Regions from separate parts of the Homo sapiens genome. Here region 2 is linked to region 1. Evidence: fine-mapped expression QTL. A gene starts in region 1. The other region holds a variant in brackets. All regions are shown on one strand. Distances are from middle to middle. Region 1 holds the start of CIAO3 (cytosolic iron-sulfur assembly component 3). Region 2 holds the start of WFIKKN1 (WAP, follistatin/kazal, immunoglobulin, kunitz and netrin domain containing 1).

The links. PIP is the estimated chance that this variant, and not a neighbour inherited with it, causes the effect.
Region 2: its variant is fine-mapped to the expression of CIAO3 in whole blood (TOPMed, PIP above 0.99).

What each region holds. Positions count from the first base shown.
Region 1 is chr16:733,822-748,335 of GRCh38, reverse strand. It overlaps CIAO3 (cytosolic iron-sulfur assembly component 3), which reads left to right and starts at 7,339. Exons shown (of 11, transcript NM_022493.3): 1 at 7,339-7,416; 2 at 8,598-8,693; 3 at 11,007-11,150; 4 at 11,938-12,070; 5 at 13,465-13,599; 6 at 13,989-14,107. The coding sequence starts at 7,351. RefSeq lists silencers at 6,934-7,213, 7,284-7,343, 7,714-8,013 and enhancers at 7,197-7,792, 10,353-10,647.
Region 2 is chr16:621,914-635,293 of GRCh38, reverse strand. It overlaps RAB40C (RAB40C, member RAS oncogene family), which reads right to left. Exons shown (of 6, transcript NM_021168.5): 4 at 9,785-9,862; 5 at 9,173-9,395; 6 at 6,026-7,952. The coding sequence ends at 7,672. WFIKKN1 (WAP, follistatin/kazal, immunoglobulin, kunitz and netrin domain containing 1) reads right to left here and starts at 4,309. Exons shown (of 2, transcript NM_053284.3): 1 at 3,870-4,309; 2 at 1,177-2,712. The coding sequence starts at 4,040. The coding sequence ends at 1,237. It overlaps METTL26 (methyltransferase like 26), which reads left to right. Exons shown (of 6, transcript NM_032366.5): 3 at 1-13; 4 at 338-405; 5 at 497-575; 6 at 650-864. The coding sequence ends at 697. RefSeq lists enhancers at 1-49, 4,216-4,950, 5,131-5,425, 4,951-5,684, 7,154-7,887 and 1 more and a silencer at 7,517-7,767. The variant C/T (reference allele first, on the strand shown) is at 5,145.

The DNA.
Region 1 (14,514 bases):
CACACTTTCCTACAAAAAGGCACTTTCTCTCCAAGTTTTATGAATAACAGGCTGCACGGGGCCACCCACCGGCGAGCCCGGGGCCCGGCAGCCTTTCCCATGTTCCCTCTGCCACCCGGGAGGCAGGGCCTCGGGAGCCCTCGAGCACATCAGCCCGAGCGGCGGGAAGTTTCTGCAGACTGGAGGGTGTGCCCCCCACGTCCACCCAGCTTCCCACAGGAGCCAGCATCTCCATACTTATTTTGTACTGTTATTTGAGATGGGGTCTTGCTCTGTTGCCCAGGCCGGAGTGCAGTGGTGCAATAACGGCTCACTACAGCCTCGACCTCCCGGGTCCAGGCAATTCTCCTACCTCAGCCTCCTGAGTAGCTAGGACCACAGGCATGCATCACTGCACCGACTCATTATTTTGTAGGAACGAGGTCTCAATATGTTGCCCAGGCTGCTCTCAAACTCCTGGGCTCAAGCGATCCTCCCACCTTAGTCTCCCGAAGTGTTGCCATTACCAGTGTGAGCCGCCACCTCGGGCCTCATCTCCACATTCCTGTTGGGTACCACGCCGCCCCAAGGCCATGCTGGCCTACCCTGCACTCTGTTGCCTGGCTCTGGCCCTCTGGGAAGCTCATCCTGGTGTCCTGCACATCAGTGGCCACACAGGTGGGGGAGTTGGAGGATTCACCTTCCCCACTTATGTGAGTTCATTCCCACACTGCTATAAAGACACTGCCTGAGACTGGGTAATTTATAAACAAAGAGGTCTGGCCGGACGCAGTGGCTCACACCTGTAATCCCAGCACTTTGGGAGGCCGAGGCGGGCGGATCACCTGATGTCAGAAGTTCAAGACTAGCCTGGCCAACATGGTGAAACCTTGTCTCAACTAAACATACAAAAATTAGCCGGGTGTGGTGGTGGGCACCTGTAGTCCCAGCTACTCGGAGGTTGAGGCAGGAGAATCGCTTGAACTCAGGAGGCAGAGGTTGCAGTGAGCTGAGATTGCGCCACTGCACTCCAGCCTGGGCAACAAGAGTGAGACTCTGCCTCAAAAATAAAAAATATAAAAATAAAAGAAAGAGGTTTAATTAACTCCCAGTTCCACAGGGCTGGGGAGGCCTCAGGAAACTTACGATCATGGCGGAAGGTGAAGGACGCAGGCACGTCTCACGTGGCAGGAGGCGAGAGAGTGGAGGGGGAGCTGCCACTTATAAACCAGCAGCCCCCGTGAGAACTCACCATCACGAGAACAGCATGTGGAAACCCTCCTCCATGATCCAATCACCTCCCTCCCTCGACACAGGGATTACAGTTCGAGATGAGATTTGTGTGAGGACACAGAACCAAACCATATCACCCCACCCCCCCACCAGGCAGCCCCTGGGCCCCCAAACCTAAACCCAGGTTCTATGGCGAGAACCAACAATAGCACTGCTCTCGGAGGGTGGCCCTGCGGGGTGGGGTGGGGCGGAACCACCGTGGACCCCAGTTGCTGCTCCCTAGCCCTGTGTGTGATGGGGGCATCTGGCCTGGTGTGTCCTTCGGGCCTTGGAAACCACACGGGCTGAGTCTGAGTGCACGTCCTGCAGCCCGGCCAGACAGACCCGCAATGAACCCACCTCCTCTCCTGCTGCCCAGCCAGGCAGACCCGCAGTGAACCCACCTCCCCTCCTGCTGCCCAGCCAGACAGACCCGCAGTGACCCCACCTCTCCCCTCCTGCTGCCCAGCCAGACAGACCTGCAGTGAACCCACCTCCTCTCCTGCTGCCCAGCCAGACAGACCTGCAGTGAACCCACCTCCTCTCCTGCAGCCCGCCCAGACAGACCCGCAGTGACCCCACCTCCTCTCCTGCAGCCCGCCCAGACAGACCTGCAGTGAACCCACCTCCTCTCCTGCTGCCCAGCCAGACAGACCTGCAGTGACCCCACCTCTCCCCTCCTGCAGCCCTGCAGACCCGCAGTGACCCCACCTCTCCCCTCCTGCTGCCCAGCCAGACAGACCTGCAGTGAACCCACCTCCTCTCCTGCTGCCCAGCCAGGCAGACCCGCAGTGAACCCACCTCCTCTCCTGCTGCCCAGCCAGGCAGACCCGCAGTGAACCCACCTCTCCCCTCCTGCAGCCCTGCAGACCCGCAGTGACCCCACCTCTCCCCTCCTGCCACCCAGCCAGACAGACCCGCAGTGACCCCACCTCTCCTTTCCCAGTTCCTGGAAGCAGAGGCCTTGATGGAACACAGGAAAGCTCAGTAAACGTTTTGAAATCAGACGTTCAGGAAAAATTAGTTAATTTTGGAAAACTCAGCTCTCCTCCCCAGGAACTCCTGACCTGAGGGGGGTTTATTCCCCCTTTACGGGGTTGTGGCACCTGCCGGCCCCCGTGGGCTCCGCAGCACCACCTGCCGGCCCTCAGCCAACCTGGGCTGCATCCCGTCCACCGGACTCACAGGCCCCACCTCCACCCCGCCCGCCCCTTGCGGGCCAGCCCAGCCCCCACACAGCCTCCCTGAGCCACATACCCGGTTAGGAGGTGGAAAGCATCTCTTTGTCGAGGGTCCCACAAGAACCTGAAATGAGGGCTGTGGTGGCTGAAGGGCAGCCTCCCAAAAGATACAACCAGGCCAGGCCCAGTGGCTCACGCTGTAATCCCAGCACTGGGGGGCCGAGGTGGAAGGATCACTTGAGCCCAGGAGTTCGAGACCAGCCTGGCCAACATGGTGAAACCCTGTCTTTTTTTTTTTTTGAGACAGAGTCTCACTCTGTTGCCCAGGCTGCAGTGCAGTGGTGCGATCTCAGCTCATTGCAAGCTCCACCTCCCAGGTTCACGCCATTCTCCTGCCTCAGCCTCCTGAGTAGCTGGGACTACAGGCACCCGCCACCACGCCCAGCTAATTTTTTCTATTTTCAGTAGAGACGGGGTTTCACCGCGTTAGCCAGGATGGTCTCGATCTCCTGACCTTGTGATCCGCCGGCCTCGGCCTCCCAAAGTGCTGGGATTACAGGTGTGAGCCAACGCGCCCAGCCCCGTCTTTAATAAAAATATAAAAATTAGCTAGGCCTGGTGATGGACTCCTGTAGTACCAGCTGCTCAGGAGGCTGAGGCAGGAGAATCGCTTGAATCCTGCAGGCAGAGGCTGCAGTGAGCCAAGATCCTGCCACTGTACTCCAGTCTGGGCAACAAGAGCGAAACTCCGTCTCAAAAAAAAATAATAATAAAGGCCGGGTGCAGTGGCTCACGCCTGTAATCCCCGCACTTTGGAAGGCTGAGGTGGGCAAATCATGAGGTCAGGAGATCAAGACCATCCTGGCTAACATGGTGAAACCCCATTTCTACTGAAAATACAAAAATTAGCCAGGCGTGGTGGCAGGAGCCTGTAATCCCAACTACTTGGGAGGCTGAGGCAGAATTGCTTGAACCCGGAAGGCAGAGGTTGCAGTGAGCCAAGCTTGTGCCACTGCATTCCAGCCTGGGTGACAGAGTGAGACTCTGTCTCAAAAAATAATAATAATACTCATGCCTATAATCCCAGCACTTTGGGAGGCCGAGGCCGGCAGATCACGAGGTCAGAAGATTGTGCCCATCTTGGCTAACACATGGTGAAACCCCGTCTCTAGTAAAAATACAAAAAAATTAGCCACGTGTGGTGGTGGGCGCCTGTAGTACCAGCTACTCGGGAAGCTGAGAGAGGAGAATGGCGTGAACCCAGGAGGTGGGGCTTGCAGTGAGCTGAGATGGTGCCACTGCACTCCAGCCTGGGCAACAGAGTGAGACTCCATCTCAAAAGAATAATAATAATAATAATAACAGTAAAAATAGCCAGGCATGGTGGCGCACACCTGTAGTCCCAGCTACTTGGGAGGCTGAGGCCGGAGGATCTCTTGAGCCCGGGAGGCTGAGGCTATAGTGAGCTGTGATCACACCACTGCACTCCAGCCTGGGAAGAGAGCAAGACACTGTATCAAGAAAAAAAAAATGTGCTGGAGCGACACAGTCACAGACCAAGGACAACTGGAGCCCCTGGAAGCTGGAGAAAGCAGGAAGGGTCCTCCCTGCAGCCTCCAGAGGGAGCACGGTGAATGACACCATGACCTCAGATGTGTGGCCTCCACAGCTAGTAGGGGACGCATCTCTGTTGCTTTCACCCCGGCGTGTTGTCATTTGTTACGGGAGCCTCAGGAGACAGGCACAGGATGATCCCTTCCGAGGGTGAAGCTCTGACACCAACCCAGGAGAGGGGACCAGGTGGCTCTACCAGTATCATGACCCCGGACCAGCAAGAGGATGCTAGCATGCAACCTCCCACCCAACCACCGGGGGCGGCTGTAGGCAAAGGGGGGTCCTGTGGGTGCCCGCAGAGCAGACGCCTCCACCAGGCATCCCTTCCAGCCCAGGGAAAGGGGGTGCCCATACACAGTCACAGCATCACAGCAACCTGGGGTCCGGCCGGCCTCGCCCTATGTCCCCAGCCGGCCCTCGTGTCCCCCCGTGCCCTCCCTGGGTTCCCTGGCCCTGGCTCAGGGACTAGCACGTGGGAAGTGCATGGTAAATACTCGCTAATGACGATGATTAAACAATCTGCAAAACAGAAAGCAGGGACCCCAGAGGCACGAGGTTGGCACTAGAGCTCAGGGGCTCCAGGGAAATGTCTGTGAGTTAATGAAGAACCCCGCCCCAGCTCCACCCGGAGCAGCAAGAGGAAGCTCACCTAAAGACCCTTCCCTTATCCCAACAGCCCTCCTCACTCTCACATTTTCTGTAAACCCACTCCACTGCATTTCAGTGGCACTAAGTTTCTTTCGTATTTTTTTTCTTTTTTTTTTTTTTTGAGACGGGGTCTCGCCCTGTCGCCCAGGCTGGAGTGCAGTGGTGCCGTCTCGGCTCACTGCAAGCTCCGCCTCCCGGGTTCACACCATTCTCCTGCCTCAGCCTCCCCAGTAGCTGGGACTACAGGCGCCCGCCACTACACCCGGATAATTTTTTTTTTTTTATATTTTTAGTAGAGACAGGGTTTCACTGTGTTAGCCAGGATGGTCTTGATCTCCTGACCTCATGATCTGCCGGCCTCGGCCTCCCGAAGTGCTGGGATTACAGGCGTGAGCCATCGCACCCGGCCTCGTGTTTTGTTTTTCTTTCTTCTTTTAGATGGAGTCTCGCTCAGTCGCCCAGGCTGGAGTACAATGGTGCGATCTCAGCTCACTGCAACCTCTGCCTCCTGGGTTCAAGTGATTCTCCTGTCTCAAACTCCCGAGTAGCTAGGACTACAGGCACGTGCCACCACGCCTGATAAGTTTTTTTTTTTTGAGACAGTGTCTTAGTCTGTTGCTCAGGCTAGAGTGCAATGGTGCTATCTCAGCTCACCACAACCTCCACCTCCCAGGCTCAAGCGATTCTCCTGCCTCACCCTCCTTAGTACCTGGGATTCCAGGCACAAACCACCATGCTGGGCTAATTTTTATATTTTTAGTAGAGATGGGGTTTCACCATGTTGGCCAGGGTGGTCTTGAACTCCTGACCTCAAATGATCCACCTGCCTCAGCCCCACAATGTGCTGGGATTACAGGCGTGAGCCACCGCGCCCAGCCTAATTTTTGTATTTTTAGTAGACGGGGTTTCACCATGTTGGCTGGGCTGGTCACAAACTCCTGACCTCGGGTGATCCACCCACCTGGGCCTCCCAAAGCGCTGGTGAGCCACCGCACCCGACCCCCTGTTCTATTTTTAATAGAAGATATTTCAGCCCCTAATCTCCAAGCTCGGCCAGGTATTGCCAGGTGGCGGGATGGCTGGGACCTGGAAGCTCACCTGGCCCAGGTGCTGGGGAAAGCTCCTCCGTGCAGCAGCAGAAGAAAGTCCTGTCTGGCCGAGAGGAGCAGCTGCAGGTGATGGAGAAGGCCACACAGGCTGGTGGCCCAAACCCCACAGGCAGGTGCAGGAGTGCCCAGGCCGCATCCAGGTGGGGACATGTGGTCAGAATCAGGGCCTAGAACCCTGGGGAGGGTGCGGCGCAGGCTGGGACCTAGGATGTTGCCACTGTGAGATCTCCATGGGCTGAGCCTGCTTGGGCCGGAAAGATGCCAGCCTCGATCCAGGAGTTTCCTGAAAAGTCCCCATAAAACTGGCCATTAGACATGTAACTGGCCATATGATGCCAGATATACATGTAACTGGCCAGGCGCGGTGGCTCATGCCCGTAATCCCAGCGCTTTGGGAGGCTGAGGTGGGTGGATCACTAGGTAAGGAGTTCAAGACCAGCCTGGCCAACATGGTGAAACCCAGTCTCTAATTAAAACTACAAACATTAGCCGGATGCAATGGCAGGTGACTGTAATCCCAGCTACTCGGGAAGCTGAGGCAGGAGAATTGCTTGAACCCAGGCGGCAGAGGTTGCAGTGAGCCGAGATCGCGCCACTGCACTCCAGCCTGGGCAACAGAGTGAGACTCTGTCTCAAAAAAGAAAAAAAAAAAAGTGAGTCGGGGTCGGGCGCGGTGGCTCACGCCTGTAATCCCAGCACTTTGGGAAGCTGAGGCGGGCAGATCACGAGGTCAGGAGTTCGAGACCATCCTGGCTAACACGGTGAAACCCCGTCTCTACTAAAAATACAAAAAATTAGCCGGGCGTGGTGGTGGGCGCCTGTAGTCCCAGCTACTCGGGAGGCTGAGGCAGGAGAATCGCTTGAACCCAGGAGGTAGAGCTTGCAGTGAGCCGAGATCGCGCCATTGCACTCCAGCCTGGACGACAGAGCGAGACTCTGTCTCAAAAAAAGAAAAAAACGAAAAGCGAGTCGGCCCACAGGGTCCTGTTTCAGGGTCTCCCAGGGGCATGGACTTTTCCAGACTGGTCTCCAAGATAACAGAAAAAGGGGCTGGAGGCCCTGGGAGCGGCTCCCCAGGAAGGGGAGACCTCGTGCCTATCCATGCTTTCTTCCCTGCCTGAATTCCCCAACACGAGCTGAGCGCCTCCTGTGTGCCAGGCGCGTTCCGGGTTCTTGGGTTGCATCCGGGAGCACCTGGTCCGCAGGTACGCAGAGGATGAGGAAATGGACGGAGCCAGATCCCCTCCGCTTCCTTGTGAAGGCGGAGAGACTCCGGGGCCGGAGCTGCGGCGCTGGCCCGACCAACCCCTGCGCCCCCTGCACCCCAACCCGGGGCCTGGGGCGCGCGGGAGGTGGACGAAGCGGTAGGTCCCGGGTTCCCGCGAGGTGGGCGGGGAGCCGCAGCGCCGGGGCTCGTCAGCAGAGGGCGCCGGCCCCGGGACGAGGTGCGCATGCGTCCTGGGGGCGCTTTCCGGCAGCGTGGCGGAACCAGCCACTTCGTTTCGCGCCGTTTAGCGACACCTGCGCGCGGCGGCAGTGCGGCCGTCATGGCGTCGCCCTTCAGCGGGGCGCTGCAGCTGACGGACCTGGATGACTTCATCGGGCCGTCTCAGGTGGGCCGGCCTGGGCGGGCGGGGTCGAGGCTGCGCTCGGTGCCCTGTCGCGCGGAGGGAAATTGCTCTGCGCCCCACTTCCTCCCCTGAGGAATGAGATCCGAATCCCGGGAGCCCGGTCTGGGCCGTCAGGGACTCTATCGACCCGGGCGCGGGGCCTCAGACACTGAGGCCCGCTTCTTACCAACAAGGAAACTGAGGCCAGGGAGGGCGGCGCCCCCCAACCCGCTCCTGTGCCCCATGGTGTCCGGGCGGGCTGCGTGGGAGGGTCCCGTGGTCGCGGGCTCGCGCCGGCCTGCCCAACCCAGAGGAGGCAGCAGAGGCGGCTCCCACACATCCCTAACCCTAACCCGACCCCTGGGTCGCAGCTGGAGGGCGGCGGGGCCCGGGCCGGGGCCTCTTCCCCTTCCCCTGCGCAGGACGCCTTGTCAGGCCTCAGGACCCCCAAGCCACAGCCTTTGCATCTGCATAAACGGGTGCGGTGGGGACCCCACCTCATTTGAGGGCAGTAGGGGCGGCCCGCTAGACGCCCCGCAGTGGCTCCTCAGTAGAGCTGTCCTTAACGTCGCCCTGGTGGGCCGGACAGCTACCCTTGAACCCGGGAGGCTGCAGGCGCCCTTTTCTGGGTGCACCTGCCTGTCCATGTCCAACAGCCCCGCGGGGCCAGAGCTGAGCAGGGCGAGAGGCGGGCTGCTGGGAGCGCTTCCGGCAGGGATGAGCTGGGAGGCGGCTTTCTGGGCTGCCAGGGTTCTCAAGGAGAAGAGAGAGAAATCCACTTGTTTCCCGGGCACTGAGCAGGAGGTGGTCTCCAAACAGATCCAAGCACACGTCCTCTCGATGGGCAGTGCAACTCTGGTCTCTGTGGTGGTCACGCCCCCTGTTCACGTGAAGGGTGAAGGTCAGTGTTGGTGGTGTCTCCGCAGGTGGGTAGTTTGCAGGCGCTGTTAGCACTGGCCTTCCTGCACACTGGGAACTTCAGTGCCGCAGGATGTTGGGAACCCGATCCCTGGGTGAGAGCAGTGGGGCAGGAAGAAGACGGTGGGACCAGCCTCAGTCCCTGAGTGCATGGCTCCTGGCAGAGCCTTCAGGCTGTGCGGCTGGGCAGCCATCCTTGAGGCCTGGCCTCCCAGGGAACCTCCGCCCACTCACAGGGGCTGATTTGGGGTCTCTTCCTGCTCTAGGAGTGCATCAAGCCTGTCAAAGTGGAAAAAAGGGCGGGAAGTGGCGTGGCCAAGATTCGCATTGAAGATGACGGGAGCTACTTCCAAATTAACCAAGTAAGGCACAGGAGGCTGCTCCACCATCTCTCCTGCCCGGCTGATCCGAAACACTTTTCTCTGCTTCCTCCCGTCACAGAGCGGTGACCCCGAGACACTCCAGGTCTCACCAGTCTTTTCCCACTGGTCGAATTCACCTGCCATCTGGGAGGCTGGGGGTCAGGGTGCCTGGGGCAGGTGAATGAGCAGCACCCAGGCCAAACAGCTTGATCTGCTCAGCAGAGGGGCTATTTGCAGAGATGGTGGATCCTGTCTGCGTCTGCCTGTTCCCCCTAGTTCTAACCATGTAAGATTTTCTAATTCAGACCCCTCGTTCTTTTGTTTGTTTGTTTGTTTGTTTGTTTGATACAGAGTCTCCCTCGATGGCCCAGGCTGGAGTGCAGTGGCATGATCTCGGCTCACTGCAAGCTCTGCCTCCCAGGTTCACACCATTCTCCTGCCTCAGCCTCCCGAGTAGCTGGGACTACAGGCGGCCACCACCACGCCCAGCTAATGTTTTTTGTATTTTTAGTAGAGACGGGGTTTCACCGTGTTAGCCAGGATGGTCTCAATCTCCTGACCTCGTGATCCACCCGCCTTGGCCTCCCAAAGTGCTGGGATTACAGGCGTGAGCCACCGCGCCCAGCCCAGACCCCTCATTCTTAAAGAATAGTACTTCCTCTCTAAGTGATAAGATCCTGATGAAACTGTTAAAATTCAGGCTGGGCGCGGTGGCTCACGCTTGTAATCCCAGCACTTTGGGAGGCCAGGGTAGGGGGGGCGGATCACCTGAGGTCAGGAGTTCGAGACCAGCCTGGCCAACCCCCATCTGTACTAAAAATACAAAAATTAGTTGGGTGTCGTGGCGCATGCCTGTAATCCCAGCTACTCAAGAGGGTGAGGCAGGAGAATCACTTGAACCTGGGAGATAGGGACTGCAGTGAACCAAGATTGCTCCACTGCACTCCAGCCTGAGAGACAGAGACTCCATCTCAAAAAAATAAAGAAACTGGGCCTGGCGCGGTGGCTCAGGCCTGTAATCCCAGCACTTTGGGAGGCCGAGGCGGGTGGATCACGAGGTCAGGAGATCGAGACCATCCTGGCTAACACGGTGAAACCCCGTCTCTACTAAAAATACAAAAAAAAAAATTAGCTGGGCGTGGTGGCCGGCGCCTGTAGTCCCAGCTACCGGGAAGCTGAGGCAGGAGAATGGCGTGAGCCTGGGAGGCGGAGTTTGCAGTGAGCCGAGATCGCACCACTGCACTCTAGCCTGGGTGACAGAGCGAGACTCCATCTCAAAAAAAAAAAAAAAAAGAAACTATTAAAATTCACCTGTCTGCCATTTGGACTCTAAAAAACGTCTGCCTGATCTCATGAACCACTGCACCAAGAGACGATTTCCAGCCCAGCACTGGGGGCCCAGCCCACAAACGAAGGGAACCCCTGGAAGGTGCTGGGGTGCTGGTAGGCGTGGCTGTCGGTGCAGTGGCAGTTGGTTTGGAGGAGCCTGTCAGCCTCTGCCCAGCACCCTGTGGCAGGCAAGGCTTTGTGCCTTGGGGCAGAACCAACGTAGGAATACAAGGCGAGCTCAGATTGTGATACACAGGCCTAGCAGAGAGCTGGGCTGCGAGGGGTTCCCACACAGTTCCCACCCAGTCGCCTTACTCCTCTGGCTGTATTCCGGGCCACTGCAGCACCCCTGGCCCTGCTCAAACCATTCCTGCCTTTGCAGGAGAAGTTGGGGGAGCTCGAGCTGGGTGCGTTTTGCATGTAAGAAAAGTTGCTGAGGCATGTCCCGGAGGCCCCCGACTGGAACACCTTGTTCCTGCATCTGTTTGGCGAGTCTGACGGTTGTTTCTGCCCCGCCCACCGGAGGCCAGGCTCCCAGGCTTCCTCCCTCTGCTCTCCTCTTCCTGTGCCTTCGTCCTTTCCTCCTTTGTCCTCAGCTTTCCCGCCTCCTCCTTTCAGAGCCCACCTTCGGCATTTTCCTGCCCTACAGCCCTGTGAGTGTGCACCGGGGCCAGCACCCCGTCCAGGGCCCCATGGGTGAGTGGGGTGGCTGCTGCTTTGCTGAGATACCAGTGGCAAGCCTTAGTCCTGTGATTCGGATGCACTAACCAAGTGGTACCAAGAAGCAGACTTGACGGCATTATGAAACTGTAGAGCGTGCGTGTGCATTTTTGTAATACATACCTAATTTTTAAAAATTCAGCGGCACACAAGCCCAGCCAGCAGCCATGTTGGTTGTCGGTTATGAGCTGGACTCCACTATCCTCTGTCTCCATGTCCTCGTGCAGAGGGGGCCCCTGTGCACCGGGTTCTTCTCCCTTGTAGGACGGCGGGACCCGGAGGCTGGAGAAGGCCAAGGTCTCGCTAAACGACTGCCTGGCGTGCAGCGGCTGCATCACCTCCGCAGAGACCGTGCTTATCACCCAGCAGAGCCACGAGGAGCTGAAGAAGGTTCTAGATGCTAACAAGGTAAGCAGTGGTCGGCCTGGTGACTCTGCTTTAACCTGAAATCCATCCCAGCAGCCGACAACGCGTTTTGCCAAGGGCAGCTCGTGTGGTGCCGACGTCCGTCGTGCGGGTGGCGCCTGCCTTTTTGAGGCTTGGAATCTTGGTGATTTGTCAGTGGGCTCCAGTGGTGAACGTGTCAGGCCCCAAACTTCAGGTTCTAAATATACATCAAAATGACACCCCTACTGGGCGCGGGGGCTCACGCCTGTCATACCAGCACTTTGGGAGGCTGAGCCGGGTGGATCACCTGAGGTCAGGAGTTCGAGACCACCGTGGCCAACATGGTGAAACCCCGTCTCTACTAAAAATACAAGAATTAGCCAGGTGTGGTGGCACATGCCTGTAATCCAAGCTACTAGAGAGGCTGAGGCAGGAGAATCGCTTGAACCCAGGAGACAGAGGTTGCAGTGAGCCGAGATTGCGCCATTACACACCAGCCTGGTGATAGAGTGAGACTCCATCAAAAAAAAACGATACCCTTGGCCAGGCACGGTGGTTCACGCCTGTAATCCCATCTACCCAGGAGGCTGAACCTGGGAGGCGGAGGTTGCATGCAGTGAGCTCCGATCGCACCACTGCACTCCAGCCTGGGCAACAGAGTGAGACTCTGTGTTAAAAAAAAAAAAAAGACTCTTGATGGAGCTGGCCTGCCCTCTCCACAGCTGACAGCATCTCACCGTGCGGCTCTGGCCACCAGGAATCAGCATAAGGCCAGCAGAGTAAGCAGCGTCTTCCCCTTGCTTTGCAGATGGCGGCACCCAGTCAGCAGAGGCTGGTTGTAGTTTCGGTCTCACCACAGTCTAGAGCATCGCTGGCTGCACGGTTTCAGCTGAATCCTACAGATACTGCCAGGAAATTAACCTCATTCTTTAAAAAAATAGGTAGGCTTTGAACCTGGGGTAACACTGCCGCTCCAAATCAAGGGGGCGTCTGAGTAAGCCCAGGCCCCTCGCGCCTCTGAGTCACTGACACGCTACCCAGCCCTGAACTTCAGCGCTACAGAAACTTTATTCCCTCTGTGACCTCAGCCTGAAGTTTTGATTTGACATTTGAGAGCAGGGCCTTCTCACAGAACACGTCTGCATTCTGACTGTGCACTTTCTCTAAGCTGGGGCTGACCAACTCCTTGTACTTTTTAGCTGATAATATTAAGGCACTCTCTCCGGGGCTCTGTTGGGTTCAGCCAAGGTCAGCTTCTGCTGACTTTGGTTATGTGCCTGGAGCTGGGCTTGGGGAGGATCTGGGTGTCTTGAGAGCCCCCAGCTAACTAGGCTCCAGTGCCTGGTGTCTCACTGGGAATGAAGGGGCTGGACCTCATGGTTACTGTGTGCCTTTCACAGGTAACCACCATGTCCAGTCCCTTCATTCCCAGTGAGGCAGGCCTGTGCGCCTTGTAACCAGCAGACTGCCTGTCATCCAGCTGTGTCCCAGGTCCCTCACACTGGAAACCTGGTGACACTGGCAGGTGCCCCATGGCTCCTGTCTGACCCATATCCAGTTGGTGCCTGAGCAGTGCTCTGGCACTGGGAGCCTGACCTGGTGTCCCAGGGAAAACCTGGCCTGGGGCAGCCCATGGTTCTCCAGATGGAAGGTGTGGATTTCGTCCCCACCAGAATAGGAAGCAAGTTCAAAGATTTTTACTTAGAGATGATGATGACGGGCAAGTGGGGCACAGCGAGTCCTCCGACCACGGGTTACGCGAGGGAGGAATGACAAGTCAGGCAGAGAGAGAGGGACCCACACGCGGGTGCCTCTGCTGGGTCCAGGGCACGATCAGGCAGGTTTACTGAGCAGTTCTAATGGCTGGGCTTGGAGCTGGCTGGCGTGTTCCAGGAGTCCTGCTGTGTGTGAGGGGTGGCCACTATGGTAGGTCTGCACAGTCAGGGTCCGAGGGGCCAGTCCAGCAGGCTGCGTCCAGCTGTGCCCTAGGGAGGGTCACCGGGAGCAGCGCACGTGGCAATTCCCTGGACCAGCCACGCTGAAGAGCTGGGAGGGTGGAGGACTGAGCTGCTGGGTGGCTGCCTCTGGGGTGGGAAACCAAGGCCTGGGTTCACAGGGGATGCCGAGGCAACGTGGCTTTAGGAGGTCCCCACAGTGGGGCTGGGGCTTTGGCGCAACGTGGCTTTAGGAGGTCCCCACGGTGGGGCCGGGGCTTTGGCACGGCAAGCAGGTGCGACACACGTGCCCTGGCAGCACCATGGTGGTCCACACGCCGGCGTGTGCTCGTGTGGGCGTCCCGCATGGGGTTAACCAGGCACCCACCTTCACCTTCCAGGGGTGCACTTCGTCTTCGACACCGCCTTCTCAAGGCACTTCAGCCTCCTGGAGAGCCAGCGAGAGTTTGTGCGGCGATTCCGAGGACAGGCCGACTGCAGACAGGCGCTGCCCCTGCTGGCCTCTGCCTGCCCAGGTGTGCTCATGGTGCGGGTGGTGGGAGAGTCAAGTTCAAGTGCAGTTGAAACGTGAGGTGATATGGACACAAATGACAAGGCGGGGGCATGGGGGGTGGAGACGCAAGCAGGTTTTGCGGGACGGGTTGGAAATGTTGGCACAAATGGCCTTTTCTGGAGAAGAGGCTGCCCTCCCGTGGGAGCCACGCGCAGTCACCTCAGGTCCCTAGGCGGTGTCGCCTGCACGCCGAGCTCCGCGTGGTGGTGGGGAGAACAGGAATGAGCACTCTTTAATGTCATCATGATCTCCTGTATGAGCGGGCCCGCCCCCAGAATGTCGTGCTGCTGCCTGTGGGTGCGGGGGCCGCCGTGCGCCCCCGCCAGCCCCGTGTGCCCCCTGTCACCTCAGGCTGGATCTGCTATGCCGAGAAGACTCACGGCAGCTTCATCCTCCCCCACATCAGCACCGCCCGGTCCCCGCAGCAGGTCATGGGCTCCCTGGTCAAGGACTTCTTCGCCCAGCAGCAGGTAACGGCGTTGGGCCAGCCCCAGACTCAGGCTGGGGAGCGGCCAGAAGTGACTTTGCTGGCCTCTTGCCATGAGGCTGCAGGAAACAGAGTCCTCGCTGTGCTGTGCGGCCTTCCCCAGCACACCTCCACCCTTGTTCCCTCCTGGTTCAGGCCCTTCCTCTTCTGCAGCAGAGGGCTTCGTTCTGATCCAGAGGTGCTCACTGCTCACCCAGAGGCAGCCAGGCCTGAGGCTGAGGGAGCAGGAGGCCCTGGGCAGTCCGGGCCTGGAGCCCACCCCTCCGGCCACCAGGTCCACGAGGATGCCCAGCACGACCCCCACCTGAGGCCCAGCGGGATAGAAGCCTGAAGACACTCAGCCAGCAGGGGGCGGGAGAGGGCGAGGGCGGCCCCGGTGGTGCCTGGGCC
Region 2 (13,380 bases), 110 kb after region 1:
CATCACCTACGGGGTGAGTGGGCCTGTCCACGGCGGGCCTCCCGCTCCCAGTCCTAGCTGCTGTCTCCTGCCCTGCTGAGAGTCCTCCCTCCTGGGCTCCCTGCCCCCCGCCCAGCCACCAGCACGGCCTCCCCTCCACTTCCAGTCTGTACCCCTCCCTGGGTCATCTGCCAGCCTCCCTACCCCCTTGCCCACCAGGCTGGCCTTGGCTGACTCCCTCTTGGGGACAGGGAGGGGGTGCCCTTTCATTCTCCAAACCCCAGCCTGCAAGTCTGTCCCAGGCTCTCTGGGAAATACCCCGACCTTGGTCCAGTGGGCTGTGTCCCCATGCCCACAGCCCTATGCCATCAATGGGAAGATCTCCCCCCAGAGCAACGTGGACTTTGACCTGATGCTCAGATGCAGGTCAGAGCTAGAGGCGGGGGGTCTGGCTCAGGTGGCAGGTGGCTTGGGTGGCACCCCCCAGGCCATGACTCCATCTCCCCACCCTCTGCAGGAACCCAGAATGGGGGCTTCGGGACACAGCCCTCCTGGAGGACCTGGGAAAGGCCAGTGGCCTGCTCCTGGAGAGGATGGTAGGTGGGGGAGCGGGGGCCCAGGCAACCTCTCTAGGGGTTGAGGGCCGTCCTCCAGCAAAGTGTTTCTCCAGGTGGACATGCCAGCCAACAACAAATGCCTGATCTTCCGGAAAAACTAAGCCCCTCCTTCACCCCCGCACACCTGCATCCCTGCCGGAGGCTCTGTGAGGCACGAACCCTGCCTCCCTAGGCCGGACCTTGTGGACGACAGCCCCACCCAGTCTGTGCTCTCAGCCGCTGGCCGAAGGGCCCAGCCTGCTCAGAATAAAGCATGTCCTGCTGCCGGCTTGCTGGTGTCTGCCCCACCTCCTCCTAGGAGCACCTTGTGAGGTTGGGTGGGAGACGGGGTCTCCTGTGGGGTCAAGGGCTTGGGACGTCCTGATCCTTGCTGCTGGAGCTCGGGCAGTGGGATTGGGGCCGAGACAGCTGCTGAGGCAGGATGGAGCTGGTTGGGGATGCAGGGGCGGACAGGCACTCCCTGGTGACCTTGTACCAAAGCCCAAGCCCCAGTGGGTGTCAAGGCCCCAGCGGAAACTGGCTGGGCATGGGGCACCTGGAAGGATGAGGGTCGCCCGACCAGCAGCAGCAAGCCAGGAGGTCTGAGGCACAGGGAGTGCGTTTATTCACCAGGACGGGGTGGCGCAGGCCCCTGCGGGGGCTAGTCCTGGAAGCGGTTGAGCAGCTCGCAGGCCTGCTTCTCCAGCAGCTCCAAGATCTTCTTGACGCGCTTCTCGCTGGCGGCGCGGACGTAGCTGCCGGCGTCCAGCACGGCCACGCCATCGCGCACCTCACCCATGATGACCAGCGGCCCGTCGCCCGCCGTCATGTTGGGGCAGGGGCAGGCCCAGTCCATGCCACTCAGCGTCACCTCCAGGTACTTGGTGCCCAAGAACTTGAGGCCCATCTTGTCATCCTTGAGCACGTCCTCGAGCGCCACGCGGGCGATGCCGCCGGCGGCCTCGGGCTCCTCCAGCACCTCCGTGAGCCGCCCCACGATGGCGAAGTCGCTGCGGCACAGGCTCAGCGCCAGCTTGCTCCGGAGGCGGCAGGCGCGGCAGGGCGGTGTGCGCGGCACGGGGCAGGCATCCTCGCAGCTCTCGCGGCTGTGGAAGTTGTTGCCGTTGCCCTCGCAGCCACCGTACACGAAGGGATGGCACTGCTGCAGCAGCGGGCTGTAGGCCCAGCGCGGCTCCCAGCCCCGGCAGGGGCCCTGCACGGCAGGCAGCACGCAGGCGTCGCCGGGGCCGCGGGCACAGGCCTGCTGGCATGCCTCGTAGGTCTCAAAGCCGCGGGCCGCCCCATCACAGCCACGGGCCGGGAAGGTCATGCAGCCGCCCCGCTGCGGGTCGTAGTGCCAGAGGACAAGGTGTGGGGAAGTGGGGCCCGTGCAGGCCTGCACATCCGGCAGGCACTCGGCCGGGGCTGGGATGCTGGGGGCTGCGTCCCTGGCCGGCTCTCGCTGGACCACAGAGAGTGGGAAGTCAGCCCGCAGCAGCCCAGCAGCGTTGCGCGCGGTGCAGGTGTACAGGCCGGCGTCTTCGGGCCGCGCGTTGTAGAGCACCAGCTGCCCGATGCTGGTGACCACCACGTTGCCATACATCTGATCAGGGCGCATGATCAGGTTCTCTCGCTGGTGACTCTGCTTCTCCCAGGTCACAGCAGGCGGCGGGCGGCCGCTGACGTCGCAGTGGAGGCTGGCCGTACCCCCAACCTGCACCGCCTGTGGGGAGGGGCTGCTGTACAGGGCAGGAGGCACGGGCGCGGCCCCAGGTGTGGGGCGGGCAGTGGTCTCCGGCGGCCCCGGGCTGCTGGGCGGCCAGCTGAGCACGTGCTTGCAGGGCACGATGTGGAGGTGCAGGCCCCGCAGGCAGGCCTCGGCGTCCATATAGCAGCGGTTGTAGTAGGTGAGGCCGTCCGAGGCGCAGGTGAAGCTGGGCTCCTTCTCACAGCGGTCGCGGCAGCGGCACACGGGCTGCCCGTCCCAGATGTCGCAGTCCGAGCCCTGCTGTGGGCACACAAAGCCCTCGCAGGAGGCCGCTGTCGTCGGCGCAGCTGGGCTGCCGGGGAAGCGTGCTGCCACGCAGCTGTGCAGTCCACACACGTTGATGCAGCACTTCTCAGCAGCCGCACAGTCCTGGGGATGGGGGACACTTAGGTGGGAGCCCCAATGCCCCCCGCCCCGGGGCTCTGGCCTGGCCCCTGCAAGGGGAGGCCCAGGTGGGGTAGCAGGGAGCCCCCCGCTCTGTGGCTGCCTCCCCGGGGACTCAGTGTCCTTTCCATCCTGTGTGAGGAGCCACCTCGCCAGAGGTGCCACCTGGCTTACCTTCCAGAATCCTCACACCCACAAGCAAGTTCCGTTATTCTTTACGTTGTACAGACGAGGAAACTGAGGCCCAAGGAGGGCGTACAGTGCTCAGGACCACCCAGCAGGTGGTGCGGGCCAGGACAAAGGCTGGACATCGGCTGCAGCACCCCCACCACCATCTGCACTGGTCCCGGATGGAAGGAGGGTGGGAGGACAGGGAGGACAGTGGATGGAAGGAGAGGGTGGGAGGAGAGGATGGAAGGAGAGGGTGGGAGGAGAGGATGGAAGGAGAGGCAGTGACGGGGTGGGAGAAGAGGATGGAAGAAGTGGATGGGAGGAGTGGATGGGAGGAGTGGATGGGAGGAGAGGGTGGGAGGAGAGGCAGTGAAGGGGTGGGAGAAGTGGATGGGAGGAGAGGATGGAAGGAGAGGCAATGACGGGGTGAGAGAAGAGGATGGAAAAAGTGGATGGGAGGAGTGGATAGGAGAGGATGGAAGGAGAGGCAGTGATGGGGTGGGAGAAGAGGATGGAAGAAGTGGATGGGAGGAGTGGATAGGAGAGGATGGAAGGAGAGGCAGTGACGGGGTGGGAGAAGAGGATGGAAGAAGTGGATGGGAGGAGTGGATGGGAGGAGAGGGTGGGAGGAGAGGATGGAAGGAGAGGCAGTGAAGGGGTGGGAGAAGTGGATGGGAGGAGAGGGTGGGAGGAGAGGGTGGGAGGAGAGGCAGTGACGGGGTGGGGGTGGTCGCCGAGGATGATGGTGCCCCAGGGTGGAGGCACATGGGGAGCATGAAAGCTGGAGTGGGGAGGGCTCTTATTCTTAAGACAAATGAGGGCAACGATGGGGGTGTCTCTGGGCCCCTTAAGGGGCCCAGACCCAGACCCCCCAGAAGTCTGGGGAGCCCAGGCAGAAGGTGGCACCTCCAGCAGGGTCTTGCCCAGGCTGGCTGCTCTGAGCCCCAGGACCCCGGCCCGACCACACTCACCTGGTCCCTGCTACACTCGCGCTCACAGGTGCTCTGGGCGTCCACCCACAGGTTGGGGCTGAGCTGGTTGGGGCACACGCCCGGGTGGCTCCCCAGCCCTGGCAGCAAGCCAGCCCCCGAGGTCAGCCGGAGGAGGAGCAGGAGCGGCAGGAGTGGACGTAGGGCGGGCATGAGGGCCGCCGAGCCAGGGGGCCGGGGGGTGTGGCCACCAGCCCCTCCTCGGGCTCCACAGAGCCCAGCTTCCTGCAGGCATCCACCCTCCGGGCCTGTGGTCGGTGCCCCCACCAGGACCCCGGGGCTCCCTTTTGCCCCTGAGGCTGAAGCCTGCAGCAGATGCTTGTCCTGACACCCCTGCTGGGTGGGTAACGGGGTCTCCAAGTTCTCAGAGGCCGTCTGTGTGACGCTGGTTCCTCTCCAGCTTCAGCCTGGCCCCTCTGTCTGAACCGTGCGGGGGCTCCCAGGCCCTGGTCAGCACAGGGCAGAGGGGAGGAGGTTGGGGAGGGGCCAGAGGCCCATGAGCACAGAGCCACTGGCCATGAGGGTCACCGGGGCGGGGAAGGGCTGGCTCTGGCTGGAGAGGGGGAGGGGAGGGGACCCTGTAACCTGAACCCCTTCGTCCACCCCTGGGCTGAGATCAATCTCCTTGACGACCCTCAGTAGGGTGGGGGCAGGGCCAGCAGATCCCAGCTTTTGTCCCTGGCGCCCTCTGGACCCCAGGCTCCTATGCCATGGGGGTGGCAGGCACGGGCCCTCCCCGCAGAGCGTGGCTGACCACAGCCTGGGTCCCCCGGGCCAGGTCCAGGCTGGCAACGGTCACGTGCGGCCGAGGGCTTCACTCCGCTCCGAGGTTCCTTCCCCCCTCCATGGCTGTTTCAGGGGCACAGGGGTCTGCAGGACGCCCAGCACAGCCCGGCCTCCTCTGCTCTGCTGCCCCTGTTGGAGTGGGGCCCAACCCGGCAGGACTGCATTCCCAGAGACCCCATCCCTGAAACCAGGCAGCGGGCTTGGGGCTCAGGCCTGTCCCCAAGGCGGGGCAGGTGCAGCAGGAAGAGGCCTGTGGCCACCACAAGCATAAGAACAGCCCGAAACGCTGATGCCGGAGCCTCGGCCCACGCACCGTGTAGCCCTGGACGTGGCTCCGCGTGGGATGGCACCGCCCGAGGGAAGGCCAAGTGCAAGGGCGTCTGCAGCTGAAAAGAGCAAGTGTCCCAGGGCACCAGAGCCTTGCCCTGCCCCAGCCCCCCGTCGGCGGGGCACACATCCCCAGGCTGGCTC[C/T]TCTTCGTTGGGGAGGGCAGGGGGCTGGCCTGCCTGGTGCAGCAGGACAAAAGGCTGCCTGGAATCTACCCTTCCAAACCCTCTGTGGCTCCAGATGTCTGGGGCCTCAGGGAGTGGTTCTCTTGAGACCGGATGGGAGTGTCCCCCTGACCCTGTGTCTGACCTCTGACCCAGGAGGCAGGGTAACAGGAGCCTGGTCTGGTCAGAATGAGACCCGGAGACGGCTCCAGGCGCCAGTCCCTGCTCTACAAGGAGACTGGGGGTGGGCCCTGATAGCGTGGGGGTGGGGGTAGCTAGGCCAGACCCAGCAGCAGGCGGCTGGGCTGGAGCTGCCAGGGAGGGGCTTAAGGCCCGGACATGCCCACGAAACAGCACAGGGAGGCACCTGAGCCAGAGGCTGTGGTCTGGTCCCTGTACCAACTGGAGTGCCCCGTTCCAGCTCAGCTGTGACCTCCGGGGCGTCCACACCCCCCTGGGCCGGGCATAGCAGACACCAGATTGGCCAGCGTGCAGGCGGCTCTGCTGAGCGGGCCGACTGACTGGAGGACCTGGCCCTCTGGAGTCCTGCTGCTGTTGGGGACAGTCCGCCCCAGGCCATCTGCTGCCGGGGACTGTGAGCGAGGGCTCAGCACAGCCCAGCTGGGATTCCATCCACCGGGAAGAGGAGAATGGCCGTGACCAGGCCCAGCTGCTCCAGCCCAGCTCCAGCCCTCACTTTGAGGCGAACCCAGCCAACCGCGGCAGGTCAGCCCGGTCAGCGCAGGGAACAGCAGGCAAAACAAAGGCCAGAGGTCAGTTTGCCGGGTATGAAGCAGCACTGGCCCCTGGCACGGGGCACCGCCACTGCCAGACCCACCCCACCAGACACAGCAAAACGTGGGGACCACAGCTGAATTACATTTACTGTACAAAGAACGGTTCGGAGAGAACCAGGAATGGCGGAGTGTCTAACAGCAGCGCGGGTAGTGTTGATGCCGTGAATGCAGGACCATCCAGGTCCTCAAAGTCTGTGAGGTTTGTTCATAATCCCAAACAAGGGCCCTGCTGGCAGCAACAGGACAGGTGGGGCCAGGACAGGGAAGCTGGAGCAGGAGGCCAGTGTCTTTGGGGGCTGTGGCAGGGCCGCCTGCCTGGGGTTCCCTTACTCATCTGGTAGTTCATGCAGGCCACGGCCCTCATCTCCCAGGAACGGGCCATGGGGCGAGTCCACTGGTGCCCAGTAACACCCTCCGTGGGACCACCTTGGGAAGCATGTGCCGCGGAGTCCACCACGGGGGGTCCTGGGTCCCGGGAGGGCTCCTTCTGCGTGCTGGCCATGTCGTGCCGCACGGCCTGAGGACAGGAGGTAGAGGTGAGCACCAGTGCTGTGGGCAGGCCCAGGCGATGGTGACCGTGCAGAGGGGCTGCTGGGGCAGGCATGGGCAGAAGCACTGGGTGGAGGAGCGGCCAATGGCTTCAGGAGAGAGGTGGCCGGCCCTGCGTGCCTGGGGCTCAGCATGAGCGCCGGGCTGGTGGGCCTTTGAGGAGGGGCCTAGCCTCCCGAGGCCCCCAGGTGGACGTGGACGTGGACGAGGTGGTTCCAGGCACGTCCCTAAGAAGGTCAGGATGGTTCTGATGCCGTGCAACCTCACAGGAGAGCTGCAGCTGTGGGGACCCCAGGGCCAGCGACAGAAGCTGCCGAGAACAGGAGGCTGCACGCAGGTGCCCGGGGTCTGCACCGCTGCCCATCAAGTATTCCTAAGTCTACAGATAGCTCTGCACTCTCCAGGGTGGGCGAGATGATCTGAGTTTTGAGTGGTCAATGTCCCCGAAGGTGTCACATCACAGCAGGAAGGTTCTCATCCCCACGTGGGGAGGGATTTGGGGAGCAACAAAAATGTGGGCTGCCAGGTGCACCTCCTTTCTCCCCTCTCCTGAGTGCTGCTTGGGCTCTGACCACAGGACCACACCCTCCATCCCGTGGGAGCCAGGGCCCCGGTCACCCAAGCTTCCAGAGGGAGCACCGGCCCTGTCTGCTCCCCCGGCCTCTGGGCAGCCCCGCCACTCGCAGCGCATGAATTCACAGGATGCCTTGCCATCGCGGCCGCGAGTCCCCTCTCGAGGAGTCCCAAGTGCGTCCCCGCAGCTGGCGTGGCCATGAAGTCACCAGTGCACCACCACCGGGCCACACCCAGGCTTCCCTGAAGGCCCCTTAAAAATGTACAAAAAAGTGAAGTGTTCTCTATATAAATAAGAAAGGCCAACCAGGCTCCCCGCCGGTCAAGCCCAGGCAGCTGGGGAGGCCCGGCTTGTTTCCGACCAAGATTCCCGGAAGCACCAGCAGCCCAGCCGCGCCCCCTCCTCCCGCCTGCCGCGCTTGGTCCGTGCATGCTCCTCCTCGCACCCGGCTCAGGTGTGAGGAAAGCCCGGCGCTTCTGAGGCAGCTGTGTGGACAGTCTCCACGTAGGCGGCACTGGCCTGGCGTCCAGCCAGGAGTGTCCAGCTCGAGCCCTCCTGGCATCTGCACAGGCGGCCCCGCCCATCCCCGCTAGGAGATCTTGCAGTTACTCCGCGAGCAGTTCTGGGGGGGGCTCTGGGGTGGACGGATGGACTTGGACCTCTTGAGGCTGTTGCCCTTGCTGCCGCCGCCCCCGGCCCCGCTGGCCAGGGAGTAGGAACGGCCGTGCATCATGACCGCGTTCATGCCGTTGGCCATCGAGAAGGACTTGAGGTGGCTCTTGATGGTGACGGGCAGTGGAAGCTTGTCGATGAGGTGCACGGGGGTGCAGGAGACGATGGCCCGGCAGCAGAGGTCCTGCAGGCTGAACACTGTGGGGCAGAGGGGGTGTCAGACCATGGGGCTGTGGGGGAGGAGGCCCTGTGCAGGGAGACCTGAGGTGCCCAAGAGAAGCCTGGCGGGGTCTCCACACTCCTAGAGGTGTTCCCAGGCTGGGCTCCTGGAGGACCTGGACGCCCAAACTTCTCTGCCCAGCACAGATGTGTCCACTGGCACCCCATCCCCTGCCTTGCTCCCTAAAGCCAGGCACGCTGGGCGGTGCTGCTGCGGGGCTTCCAGAGGGCACTCTGCCCAGTTCCTGGCCTGGATGATGCAGCTCCCAGTGTGAGGGCTGCGTGATCTGGCCCTTCAAGCGTCCTGACTCATCCCCTAGAGCGGGGGAGCGCGCGTCCTGACTCATTCCCTAGAGCACTCGCTCATTCTTTTGTTTTGTTTTTTGAGACGGGTCTCGCTCTGTCGCCAGGCTGGAGTGCCGTGGCACGATCTCCGCTCACTGCAACCTCCGCCTCCTGGGTTCAAGCGATTCTCCTGCCTCAGCCTCCCGAATAGCTGGGACTACAGGTGTGCGTCACCACGCCCGGTTAATTTTTGTATTTTTAGTAGAGACGGGGTTTCACCGTGTTGGCCAGGCTGGTCTCGAAGTCCTGACCTCAGGTGATCCACCTGCTGTGGCCTCCCAAAGTGCTGGGATTACAGGAGTGAGCCACCGTGCCAGGCCCGTGCTTCCTCTTAAGAAGGACAGTGACACCGTCAGCCACCCTCTCTCTGTTCAGCAGTGAACCCTGCTGGGAGGCACCACAAAATCAACAGTACCACCTCCCTGAGGGGGGCTTCACGGGAGCCTCTGATCAAGGATGTGGCTACCCAGGAAGAGCAGATGACACAACACAAAGCTGCAGGCACGGCTCCTGTGCTCCCCTGACAGCAGGACCAGCCCCGGAACCAGGAAGGAGCGAGCACACACTGCCCACACCAGCAATGCCAGGGACCCACAGGCATGGCAGAGTGCAGCGGCCACGGCGGCACCCTGAGGGGGGGTCATCAGCTGCTCCTGTGCCCCCCAGTGCTGCCGCCTCTCCCCCGAGGCTGCTCTTACCAAGTCACTGACCTGCCGCCGGCCGAGCCCCTACTGCGCGTTGCCAAGGGACCTGCCTGAACCTCCCTCACTGGCCCCTGGCCCCCCTCAGCCTCCATGTGATCAGGGCAGCCCAGGTTCGGGGACCTCAGGGCTGGCCGGCGCCCGCCCACCCACCTCGGTTGGGCCTCCAGATCTTCTCCATGCCGTGCCGCATGAGCACGATGCGGGATAGCTCCGTGAAGGACTCGATGACGTTGAAGTTGCACAGGGGGCTGACCTCAAAGAAGGTCATGCAGTTCTTCTCTGCGTACGCGCGGGCCTGCTCCGTCGGGACCTGCCGCTTGAAGGCCAGGTGCAGCCGGTTTCCAACCAAGATCCGGGGGACTCCGGGTGCATGCTGGGGGCACAGAACTCAGCAGACGCACAAACGCAGGGTGCCACCCACCCCTCAGCCGCAGCAGGGCCCGCCCTCATTGTCTGGACTATGATGGGGTGAGGGCCGTGGGAGGTCAAGGTGGGCGGAGGTCAAGGTGGGCAGACCCCAGGGCTCAGGCCCTACAGTGCAGCCCTTCCGGGTGGCCCCGTAGCTCCTGGTCTTGCTGGGCTCCACGCCCGACTGTCGTGTGCACAGTGACCAGCATGCCCAGGCGTAGGCCGTGGGACAGTGCAGGGTGCAGAGCCGGGGCCACAGGAGGGGCGGCAGGCGGGAATCCAGAGCCTACCCGGGGCCCAGGTACCTCCATCCAGCCTGCCTTCCCCGGGAGGGCTCCCCGGACCCAGGCCTACCTCATCGATCTCCTTGATCCAGCGGTCGATGCCGTCAAAGGACCAGCGGTTGGTGATGTCATACACCAAGAGGATCCCCTGCAACAGAGACTTGGGGGTCATCAGGGGTCACTGACACGCATGGCCAGCCCAGGCCCAGGGACGCTCAGGTGCAGGGGCCTCAGTTCCCGGGCAGGGCCAAGGATGCTTATTACTTGGCGGATGGGCAGATGAGCCATGCCCTCCAGGCAGAGCTGGTGCAGCCCTGCCCCTCACCCCTGCCCTCACCTGGCAGGACTGCAGCAGGGGGGTGGGCGCCTTCCATGGTGTCAGAAATGCCGCTTCCCCTCCCTCCCCTGGAGCCATCAGCCTGTGGAAGTTTCCTGGGCAGGCAGATGCGGGGTTCTGGCAGCCGGGGGACGTGCAGCTGTGGAAGCTAAGTGTCCTCTCGGCCAGTCCATCAGTGAATCCCCCCGGGAGTACCTGGGACAGAGCTGAGTGGGGGCATTTCTGAGTTTTCCAACCTAAAACTTGCAGAGCAGAATGCCAGTCCCTCCAGGACAGTTTCTGTGAAGCTCCCCCAGCCAGGCAGAGCAGGTTTTGCCACGGGGACTTTTTGCCACATCCCTTAGAGACCAATTACTTGGAGCTCAGCTCTGGGCTGTTTCCACCTGCCCTAAATATCTCGGCAGTGACAGTCATGGCTCTCCAGCAGCACAGGGGAGCACACTGCTCACACTCAGAGCCCTGTCGGGCGAAACGGTGACATCACAGGCCCATTCCCCTATGCCCGCCTCTCCCCAACGTCCACTCCCACCCTACAATTCTGCAACCAGATCCAGCCAATGAGCTGTGATCCACCCTACTCCTAGGCTGACAAAACCTTCACGTAATGGAAGAGCCTATCACACAAGAGGCTGAGGCTGAAAGAAGAGGGCACTGTCCATCTGAAAATTAGGGTTTTTAGAGCCTCTTAGAACCATCTTTCGATATCTGGAAGACTGAAGTGTAGCCCCAGGTCCTGTTTAGAACAAGGTTGACATTACTAAGCTCCCAGGGCGAAGGCCTTGCTCAGGATGGAGCGACAGCTCAGGAAGGACACCTCTCGCTGAGGGAGACCCTTCGAGGCCAGAGATGGCCAAGTCAGTCTGGTGGGCGATAAATGATAAGATTCAGAATAAACAAATGCACACCCAGGGGTTAACCCTGGAGGTTGGGGCACAGGGACTGGGGCTGGCTCATTTGCTGCTGGGGGAGGTGGAGAGACTGGGGAGTGGGCCACCAAAGCGTACAACACAGCCCACTCTCCCTAGTGGCAACCTCCCGCATGGCAACCTCCCGCATGGCAAGCCCACAACTCAGAAGTAACTGAGGATGTGTGTCACAGTGGCGCTGATAACAACGACAAGCCAGACACAAATTAAATGTCCAGCCTCAGGGGACAGCTGAGTAAGCGGCAGTGAAATGTACCGTGCAGATGCTGAAGACAGCAGCAGTGCATGTAAAAGCGTGCATGCTGGCCAAGGAGAGATGTGCAACCCAGGTGAGGTAAGAACGCAGGTCCCAGCACTGCGGATGGCATTTTCTTTTTTTTTGAAACAGGGTCTCACTCTGTCAGCCAGGCTGGGGTTCATGCAGTGGCACGATCATGGCTCACTGCAGCCTGATATTCTGAGCCTCAGCTTCCTGAGTGGCTGGGAATACAGGTGTGAACCACCACATCTGGCTAAGTTTTTTTAAACATTTTTTAGAGATGGGATCTTGCTATGTTGCCCAGGCTGGTCTTGAACCCCTGGCCTCAAGTGATCCTCCTGCCTCAACTTCCTAAAGTGCTGGGATCAGAGGTGTGAGCCACTGTGCCCAGCCCAGCATGATTTCTTTTTTTTTTTTTTTTGAGACGGAGTCTCACTCTGTCGCCCAGGCTGGAGTGCAGCCGCACGATCTCCGCTTCCGGGTTCACGCCATTCTCCTGCCTCAGTCTCCTGAGTAGCTGGGACTACAGGCGCCCGCCACCATGCCCGGCTAATTTTTTTGTATTTTTTTTTAGTAGAGACAGGGTTTCACCGTGTTAGCCAGGATGGTCTTGATCTCCTGACCTCCCGATCTGCCCACCTCGGCCTCCCAAAGTGCTGGGATGACAGGCGTGAGCCACCGCGCCCGGCCCAGCATGATTTTTAAAAAATAAAAGTATGAACACACAACACATTACACTGAAGAAGTTTATATGGACATAAAACAAATGCTAAAAGGCTGGAGAGGGGTAACTTTTGATGCTGACCTGTTTTCTGTGGCAAACACCCCTATTCGCATGACACTGAAAACTCTAGAAAGAGAGCAGAAGGCCCGCCTCCCGGCTGATGGGCTGCCTCAGGCTCCAAGTGTGCTGTGACGCGGGGGGCCCTGGCCACACCTCCCGGCTGCTGCCCTGAGCGGGCCCCCACTTCCTGGGATGGCCATGTCTGAGGAGTAGGGGTTACGGGCAGGGGCGATGGCACAGGAGGACCCGGAGGCTTGCTCCGGCGTGGGTCACAGTGAGGCCGCAGGGACCCAAATGACCACGGAGTGAGAAACCAAAAGGAGACTCTCGGTGACCAGCAGCCGCCTAACGAACGGCACCCTAAGCACCCTCAGCTGCGTGTCTCAAGGGGCAGAGCACGGGACAAACAGACTCTTCCACTGCCTTCTGTTTTCTAAAACTGATCTGATTTTTAAAAAACTAGCGACTTCGGCCAGGCGCCGTGGCTCACGCCTGCGATCCCAGCACTTTGGGAGGCCGAGGCAGGCGGATCACGAGGTCAAGAGATGGAGACCATCCTGGCCAACATGGTGAAACCCCGTCTCTACTAAAAATACAAAAATTAGCTGGACGCGGTGGTGCACACCTAGTTCTAGCTACTCGGGAGCCTGAGGCAGGAGAATGGCGTGAACCCGGGAGGCGGAGGTTGCAGTGAGCCGAGATCGCGCCACGGCACTCCAGCCTGGCGACAGAGCCAGACCGTGTCTCAAAAAACAAAACAAAAGAACGAGCGAGTGCTCTAGGGGATGAGTCAGGACGCGCGCTCGCCCTGCTCTAGGCCCCTCTAGGAGCCGCCCTGACAGTCAGTTTCCTCAGCGTCTACAGACGTGTCCACGGTGCCGCTCATGCCTCGCGGGCGGGGTCAAGGGGGTGGAGGCACTTGGCGCTGCTCCCACCCGCACGCCCTGAGCTCAGGCCCAGCACCCCCGCCTGCTCGTGAACTGGTACTGCGCCAGCTCTTGGGTAACGGTGGCAATATGCATCTGAGCACGTTTACACCTTTTTTTGATCAACTCGACCTACACGATAAATTCCCAGAAGTAGAACTGCTGGGCCTAAGAGTGGGTGTCCTTTTTGCTATCATTTTTTACTGAGCTGTAACTTACAAAGCACAAAATACAAAGATCCGAGGTTTGAACATTTTGATGAATTTTGACAAACACATGCCCCTTCCACCCATGTGGCTGAAGCTCCCAAGGTACAGCCAGCGAGAGTGAAGCCCTCCTCCTGCATCCCTGCACCCAGGCTCTGCCCAGGAGCAACTGACATGTAAAATGGGAGCTACTGCCAAGCCGCGCCCACTCACATCCACCCGCCCACC